3 separate regions of the Homo sapiens genome follow, and regions 1 and 3 are each linked to region 2. Evidence: fine-mapped expression QTL. A gene starts in region 2. Each other region holds a variant in brackets. All regions are shown on one strand. Distances are between the middles of the regions.

What was found.
Region 1: its variant is fine-mapped to the expression of NLRP1 in whole blood (TOPMed, PIP 0.99).
Region 3: its variant is fine-mapped to the expression of NLRP1 in sigmoid colon (GTEx, PIP 0.96).

What each region holds. Positions count from the first base shown.
Region 1 is chr17:5,531,101-5,533,858 of GRCh38, reverse strand. NLRP1 (NLR family pyrin domain containing 1) reads left to right here. Exons shown (of 17, transcript NM_033004.4): 10 at 475-555; 11 at 875-1,037. LOC124903902 (a long non-coding RNA gene) reads right to left here. Exons shown (of 4, transcript XR_007065590.1): 2 at 159-280. Among named protein-coding and RNA genes, the nearest start is that of MIS12, 46 kb to the right of the region's middle. The variant C/A (reference allele first, on the strand shown) is at 1,697.
Region 2 is chr17:5,582,828-5,585,585 of GRCh38, reverse strand. It overlaps NLRP1 (NLR family pyrin domain containing 1), which reads left to right and starts at 1,077. Exons shown (of 17, transcript NM_033004.4): 1 at 1,077-1,899; 2 at 2,740-2,758. The coding sequence starts at 1,629. RefSeq lists enhancers at 689-988, 1,009-1,268, 540-1,739.
Region 3 is chr17:5,510,144-5,512,901 of GRCh38, reverse strand. It overlaps LOC101928044 (zinc finger CCHC domain-containing protein 9-like), which reads left to right and starts at 176. Exons shown (of 1, transcript XM_047437231.1): 1 at 176-950. The coding sequence starts at 275. The coding sequence ends at 862. It also overlaps a transcript of NLRP1 not described here. The variant G/C (reference allele first, on the strand shown) is at 1,409.

The DNA.
Region 1 (2,758 bases), 52 kb after region 2:
GGTTGGGGGAGGTCAGCTGTGGGAGGTCATTCCCTCCATCCCTCTGCCCCTGATGTGGGACGGGGCAGGTTTCCTACCCAAGAGGGTGCTACCCCCACGAGAGAGCTCCCACTCCTAGGAACTGGCTGGATTTCCGTTACCCTCTCTCCGAGACCCACCGGCTGGTGCTTCCCCTCTCCAGAACGTCTATGGCATGTATCAAACCCTGAACCGGGGTCCGGCCTCTTCCATTCTTGGCTGCTAAGGCCTGGGAATCACATCTCCATCTTTGCCCTGCCATCTAAAAAAAAAAAAAAAAAAAAAAAAACAGAGTCTCACTCTAGTGTTCAGGCTGGAGTGCAGTGGCATGTTCATGGCTCACTGCAGCCTAAACCTTCTGAGCTCAAACAATCCTCCCACCTCCGCCTCCTGAGTAGAACTGGGACTGCAGATGCTCACCACCATGCCTGGCTGATATTTTTCTTTTTTCTGTAGAGAGGGCGGCTTCCCATGTTGCTCAGGCTAATCTCAAACTCCTGGACGTGAGCAAGATCTTCCCAATTGCTGAGATTGCAGGCAAGAGCCACGGTGCCTGGCCCCTTTCATCTTTTGAACCATGTTCTCTCTCAACCTGCCCACCTGGGCATGCTGGGGAGAGTGGCACTTCTATTCCAGTGGGGAAGGGGAGATGGGCGGAGGCTGGGCTGGAGGCACTGGAGTGGGGCTCCCCAGACAGCAGGCAGGCAGCCATGGAGCAGGAGCAGAAGCTGCAGACACACTCCCTGCCATGGTCCAGGCAGGCCAGCCTTGGGAAGGGCCCCTTACAGTGCAGCCATAGGGGCTAGGGGAGGCCAGGCGGGAGAATCTGGAGCTGACCGCTGCCTTGCTGTTTCAGAGGAAAGCTCCCCAGAGGTAGTACCGGTGGAACTCTTGTGCGTGCCTTCTCCTGCCTCTCAAGGGGACCTGCATACGAAGCCTTTGGGGACTGACGATGACTTCTGGGGCCCCACGGGGCCTGTGGCTACTGAGGTAGTTGACAAAGAAAAGAACTTGTACCGGTGAGTGAGGGGGCTCTGCTGGTCCCAGGCTGGCCTCCCGCACCCCACTGCCCATCCTGGGTCCCCACAGACAGTCAGCGCCACCCCCTACCCCCAACTCACACTCACCACTGGGTCCCCTCCTCTTGCCAAGACAACAGGCAGAGACAGGGCTGAGACACTGGGTGTCTGCTTTTCATATGGAAAAAGATGTTTTCTTATGAAACTTAAAATTTTCAAACATATACAAAAATAGTACAAGGAGCTTCCATGTACCCATCACCCAGCTTCAGCCACTGTTTTGCCAAATTCGTTTCAGCTGTTCACTTTCCCCCTCTTTGTTATTGTTACAGTATTTTAAATCCAAGACATCGGGTGATTTTACCCTTAAATATTTCATTACGCATCTCAAAAAACAAAAATAAAAACCTTTTCTTCCATAACATAACTACAATGCCAATATCACATCTGACAAAGCTGGCAGTAAGTCTTTCATTTCATCTACTCCCCAATCCATATTCAAATTGCTCAATTGTCTAAAACATGTTCTTATAGTTGGTGTTGTGGTTTGGTTGGGTTTGGTTTGATTTGGTTTTGAGACAGAGTCTTGCTCTGTCACTCAGGCTGGAGTGCAATGGCACAATCTTGGCTTACCTCAACCTCCACCTCCCAGGTTCAAG[C/A]GATTCTCCAGCCTCAGCCTCTCTAGTAGCTGGGACTACAGTCACATGCCACCACGTGTGAAAAATGAAAATTGTATTTTTAGTAGAGATGGGGGTTTCACCATATTGGACAGGCTGGTCTCGAACTCCTGACCTCAGACGATCCACCTTCCTCAGCCTCCCAAAGTGCTGGGATTACAGGCGTGAGCCACCGCGCCTGGCCAGTTGGTGTGTTCTTATCAGGATCCAAACAAGGTCCACTCATTTTATTTTCTTTGTTATATTTCTTAAATCTCACTTAACTCTCTTAATCTGTATGCTCCTGTTTTATTAACAGCCACTAATGAGCTAAGGACTGTACTAGTAGCTGGGGACCCTAAGATGAATATGGCAGCCCTGCCCTCCCAGGGCTTACAGTCGCACTAGTAGTAATTCTCTATAGTCATACTCATGATCTCTTATATAACATGTTACCACTCACCAAACACTGCCACAGACATCATCTCAACCAGGAGACAGCGTCACTCCCAGCTCACACCTACAGAAGCTGGGGCATCCCGGGACCCACTATTAACCCACCTGAGGAGCCTTGGGAAAATCACTTCTGATCTCTATAAAAGTGTTGTTTCCAATTCTAAGGGTTTAGCATTAATATTAGCACATACGGCCAGGCATAGTGGCTCATGCCTATAATCCCAGCACTTTAAGAGACCGAGGCAGGAGGATCACTTGAGTCCAGGAGTTCAAGGCCAGCCTGGACAACATGGCAAAACCTTGTGTCTACAAAAATTACCAAAAAAATTAGCTGGACGTGGTGACATGTACCTGTAGTCCTAGCTACTCAGGGAGCTGAGGTGGAAGAATTGCCTAAGCCAGGGATTTCGAGGCTGCAGTGAACCAAGATCGGGCCACTGCGCTCCAGCCTGGGCAACAGAGTGAGACCATATTTCCATAGATTAGATAGATAGATAGATAGATAGATAGATAGATAGATAGATAGATAGATAGATTAGATAGATTAGATAGATAGATAGATAGACAGACAAGACAAGACAGATAATCTTAGCACATATATTGTTATTA
Region 2 (2,758 bases):
GTGGGCGGATCACCTCGGATCAGACTGGCTAACATGGTGAAACCCCATCTCTACTAAAAATACAAAACAATTAGCCAGGCGTGGTGGTGAGTGACTGTAATCCCAACTGCCCAGGAAGCTGGGCTGATGCAGGAGAATCGCTGGAACCCAGGAGGTGGAGGGAGCTTGCAGTGAGCCGAGATCTTGCCACTGCACTCCAGCCTGGGAAAGAGAGAGAGACTCTAAGACCTTTTGCTGAATTGAAGCCTCTTGGTAAACCTATGATGTCCCATTTAATAGATGGGCAAACTGAGGCTCAAAGAAATAAATCAGGCACATAAGGAGTCCTTGTCCAAGCAAGCCGTGGGTTGAAGCCTGGGCTCTGCCAGTCCAAGTGAAACCAAAGCATCTCCAGAAATTCCTGGTGGTGTGTTACATCAGCAAATGAGTAGGCAATGTCATTCCTCAACCTGAAGTCATTGGCATCTTGCAGATTCCACGAAAGAGGAAGTCTGCCCCTGGCTCCCCGAGGCCTGCTTGCAGGAATGAGGAAGGGGCTGTTCTGCTTTCAGGTGGAAATGTTCACCAGCTAAGTGCTGGGCTGCCCAGAAGGCAAACAGCCCCCTGGGCCTGGGACACATGCTTTAGTGCCCCTGGTAGCATGGCAGGACATGCAGTGCAACTCAAGAAGCTCCCAAAACCATGAGAGGCTGGGAAAAATGCTCCCTGGCCCAGTTCTAATGTTTCCCAATAAGGAGCTGCCCGGGCAGACACAGGGGGCCCCACCCATCCTGAGAGGCTGGGCCTGGGCTGCAGACACAACTGCTCGGAGAGTCTGCATCCTGGCTCTGCAGACAGGCTCTAGATGATGGGCTGGCGGAGTGCCCATGTGGAGGTGCACACACCGTGTTTAGTATGGGCCTGTACCTGCTGCAGCGTCAGCTGGTCTGGGCCTGTGCTCCTGGTCCGCCTATAGATGCCATGTGGCCCATCTGAATCTGTGACTCTGAGTCTGGCCTACCCAGGCCTGGTTTGATCCTACCCCCTGGCCACGCCCCTTGTGGGTTTCCTCTGGGTGACGTTTCCTTCCTGCTCTTGTTGACTAGGCGCTGTTCTTGCTGGCTGGTGCCCCAGGGCCTGGAGAGGTCTGAAGAAACCTGGGAGCCAGCAGCCCGGGGCTCCACTCTGGGTTCTGAAAGCCCATTCCCTGCTCTGCGGCTCCTCCCACCCCACCTCTTCTCAGCCTTGCAGCTCAAGGGTTGATCTCAGGAGTCCAGGACCCAGGAGAGGGAAGAATCTGAGGAACACAGAACAGTGAGCGTTGCCCACACCCCATCTCCCGTCACCACATCTCCCCTCACCCTCACCCTCCCTGCCTGGCCCTGGACCCCATCCCAGGACCTCCCTATCAGCTGACTTCTTCCAGTGTCTTGCAGGCCCCTCTGGGCTCCTCCCTCCCCTGGCTTTTCCTACCACTCCCCCTCTATCGGCGTCTATCTGTAGGTGCCCTGGGATTTATAAAACTGGGTTCCGAATGCTGAATAAGAGACGGTAAGAGCCAAGGCAAAGGACAGCACTGTTCTCTGCCTGCCTGATACCCTCACCACCTGGGAACATCCCCCAGACACCCTCTTAACTCCGGGACAGAGATGGCTGGCGGAGCCTGGGGCCGCCTGGCCTGTTACTTGGAGTTCCTGAAGAAGGAGGAGCTGAAGGAGTTCCAGCTTCTGCTCGCCAATAAAGCGCACTCCAGGAGCTCTTCGGGTGAGACACCCGCTCAGCCAGAGAAGACGAGTGGCATGGAGGTGGCCTCGTACCTGGTGGCTCAGTATGGGGAGCAGCGGGCCTGGGACCTAGCCCTCCATACCTGGGAGCAGATGGGGCTGAGGTCACTGTGCGCCCAAGCCCAGGAAGGGGCAGGTGAGTGGACAGAGGACCCCACTGCCCGCGGGACATCCCCTGGCCCTCATGCCTGCCCTGCCCTCTTGGGACCCCACCACTGAGCCCTCCCTGCCAGGCCTTCCTCTGAGCAGTGACATGGAACTGCCCTCTCAAAGGGGGATCCAGGCCCCAGACTATGCTGGAGCCAGGAGGCTTGCTGGGGGGGCCCTTGCTGCACCTCAGAGCCCCACACCCTCTTCTATTCAAGTGCATTCCCGGTACTCGCCTGGCATTGTAGTTATGAGCACGGACTTGGGAGTCAGGCACTATCACCAGTCCTGGCACTATCACCCTGGGCCAATCACTTCACTGCTCTCTGCCTATTTCTCTGTCTGCAAAATGGGAGAGTGAGAGCCCGCCTCCCTGGGCTGTGTGAGGGTTAAAAGAGATCATCCAGGTTAAACATTTAGCACAGAGTCTGATATACAGTAAGTGCTCAATAAATAAGATCTCCCATTGCTGTTGTTGCTGCTGCTGCTGCTGCTGTTATTATTACTATTAGCCACCCTGGGTTGCAGATGCCGTTGGCCCAATAAAGCACAGCTGAGGCTCAGTAGGAGTAGTGATTTACACAGGGAGATAGTCAGGACCAAGACAGATATGCAAATTTCCTGATCCTAGATGAGGATTTTTTGCCTAGCAGTATCTATAAGAACATCATTCTTCAGACAAGCCTCTAGAGGAAGTTGTAGAGGGCTGCAGCGGGTTCACTGGTGTATCCTGACCTCTCTTGGTTGAGAGAGGAGACCAGCTCAGTTCCCTGGCACCTTGCCCCTGCCCCTCTGATGTGTCTCCAACCTCTTTGTCTCTTTCCTGTAGGCCACTCTCCCTCATTCCC
Region 3 (2,758 bases), 73 kb after region 2:
ACTGATAAGATGCGGTAAAGAAGCTGGCCAAAGCCCACCAAAGCCAAGATGGCAATGAAAGGGACTCCTGGTTGTCCTCACTGCTCATTATATGCTAATTTTCACCCTCCTGTAGGACCAGCTCCAGCAGTTGTGGGACCCAGTGCAAAATGGAAACACAGGGCCCCTCGTTCAAAAATGATAAGAATGTCAAGACGGTGACAACAGAACATGAAATCAAGCGCCAGGCCCTGCTGAGCTCAGGGCTCTGTGTGACCGCACAGGTCACACACCCATGAGACTGGCCTTGTCTTTCGGGTCCTTCACGCCCCACCCACCCATCTCCTTTACCACATGCAGACCTCCACTCTCCACACAACCCTTCCTCCAAGAGGACAGTCAATGGGAAGTAAGAAGATTTAAAAGACAAGGGGCAAAGAAAAATGCAATGGTGTGTTTCCATTGTAGAAAACCTGGTCGTGGAATTGCGGATTGCCCTGCCGCCCTTGAAAATCAAGATATGGGCACTAGAAGATGTTACAAGTGTGGGTCCACAGATCACGAAATAACCAAGTGTAAGGCTAAAGTAGACCCGCCTCTTGGCGAATGTCCTTTTGCAGAATGTTTTGTCTGTGGAGAAATGGGGCACCTGTCTAGATCTTGTCCTGATAATCCCAAAGGACTCTATGCTGATGGTAGTGGTTGCCAACTTCATGGCTCTGTGGAACATTTAAAGAAAGATTGCCCTGAAAGTGAGAATTCAGATCGAATGGCCACAGTTGGTCTGTGGGCAAAGGGAATAAGTGCAGACTATGAAGACATTGTGGATGCACCAAAACCACAAAAACCCAAAACAAAAATACCTAAAGGTGTTAATTTTTGATAACAACTAGTACTGTCATTAGTTACCACCTCATTGTTACTTTCTAAACCAGGCCCACTTCACAAGTTACAGCTGGGCTCCCTTGTAGCCAGGACTATACTGTAAATATCAGTATGATCTGGGTGTGGTCAAAAACAATTTTCAACAGAGAGAAAGAAGAAAGAAGAGAGAGAAAGAAAAAGGAAGAGAAAGAGGAAGAGGAAGGAATGAAGAAAAAGAGGAAGGAAGGAAGGAAAGAGAGAAAGGAAAGAGAAAGAAAGAAGAAAGAGAAAGAGAAAGAAAAAGAAAAGAGAAAGGGAGGGAGGGAAAGAAGGAAGGACCTACGCGAGGAGGGGCTCCGCCAACCCTCTAAGCCCCGCAACCCCCGCATGCCCCGCCTCCTTCTGCAGACCTCCCCGTCCCTCATCCCAGCAAGTCCTCACGTTAGTTGCCGGAAGCCTAGGAAATGTATTCCTAAATCTGGAGTCGTCTCCATGGCAGCGAGCCCCGAAGTGGAGCCAGTCTTGGAGTAGGAGAAAGGCCAGACACAAACAAGTGTGTGGGGAT[G/C]GGGGAGACACACATGCATGTCCGCTTTGGATCCAGATTCTCTTTTTTTTTTTTAGACGGAGGCTCGCTCTGTCGCCCAGGCTGGAGTGCAGTGGCGCAATCTCAGCTCACTGCACTCACTGCAACCTCCACCTCCCGGGTTCAAACGATTCTCCTGCCTCAGCCTCCCGAGTAGCTGGGATTACAGGCGCCCACCACCACACCCGGATAAATTTTTGTATTTTTAGTAGAGACGGGGTTTCACCATGTTGGCCAGGCTGGTCTCGAACTCCTGGCATCAAGTGATCCGCCCGCCTCGGCCTCCTAAAGTGCTGGGATTACAAGTGTGAGCCACCGTGCCCGGCCTGGATCTGGATTCTAATAGCAACAGCTAGAATTCTGAGGGACAGGCAGTGAGCTGGGAATCAAATTCTTGGCTCTACCACCCATTAGATGTGTGATCTTGAAACAGGTTTTCAGATGTGTAAGAAGGGAATAGCAAAGCTTGCGTCAAACGGTTGTTTGACTAGGTGAGCTCATGAGTGGGAAGTTGTTCTGGGCGAGCTGGTACACAACACTAGGCAGACAGTAAATCTTAGCTTCTTTGAGCCTGAGGCTGTTGTAGGTGCCAGTGATAACAGAGGCCAGAGTATCTATTCTCAAGCAATTTATATTCTAGTGGCAAGGAGATACGAAATACGCACCCATGTCTGTAATCCCAGCACTTTGAGAGGCGAAGGCCTGAAGATCTATTGAGACCAGGAGTTTGAGACCAGGAGTTCAAGACCAGCCTGGGCAACATAGCAAGACCCCGTCTCTTAAAAAAAAAAATTTTTTTTCATTTTTTTGGCCAGATGCAGTGGCTCATGCCTGTAATCCTAGCACTTTGGGATGTCAAGGCGGACGGATCACCTGAGGTTAAGAGTTTAAGAGTTCAAGACCAGCCTGGCCAACATGGTGAAACTCTGTCTCTACAAAAATACAAAAATTAGCTGGGCATGATGGCAGGTGCCTGTAACCCCAGCTACTCGGGAGGCTGAGGCAGCAGAATTGCTTGTACGTGGGAGGCACAGGTTGCAGTGAGCCGAGATCACGCCATTGCCCTCCAGCCTGGGCAACAGAGCGAGCCTCTATCTCAAAAAAAAAAACCAGTTTTTTTAATTAGCCGGGCATCGTGGTACATGCCTGTATTCCCAGATACTCTGGAGGCTGAGGCAGAAGGGTCCCTTGAGCCTAGGCTCCAGTGAGCCATAATCATGCCACTGCACTCCAGCCCTGGAGACAGAGCAAGATCCTGTCTCTAAATAAAAATAATTGGCTGGGTGCTTACCTATAATCCTAGCACTTTGGGAGGCTGAGGCCAATGAATTG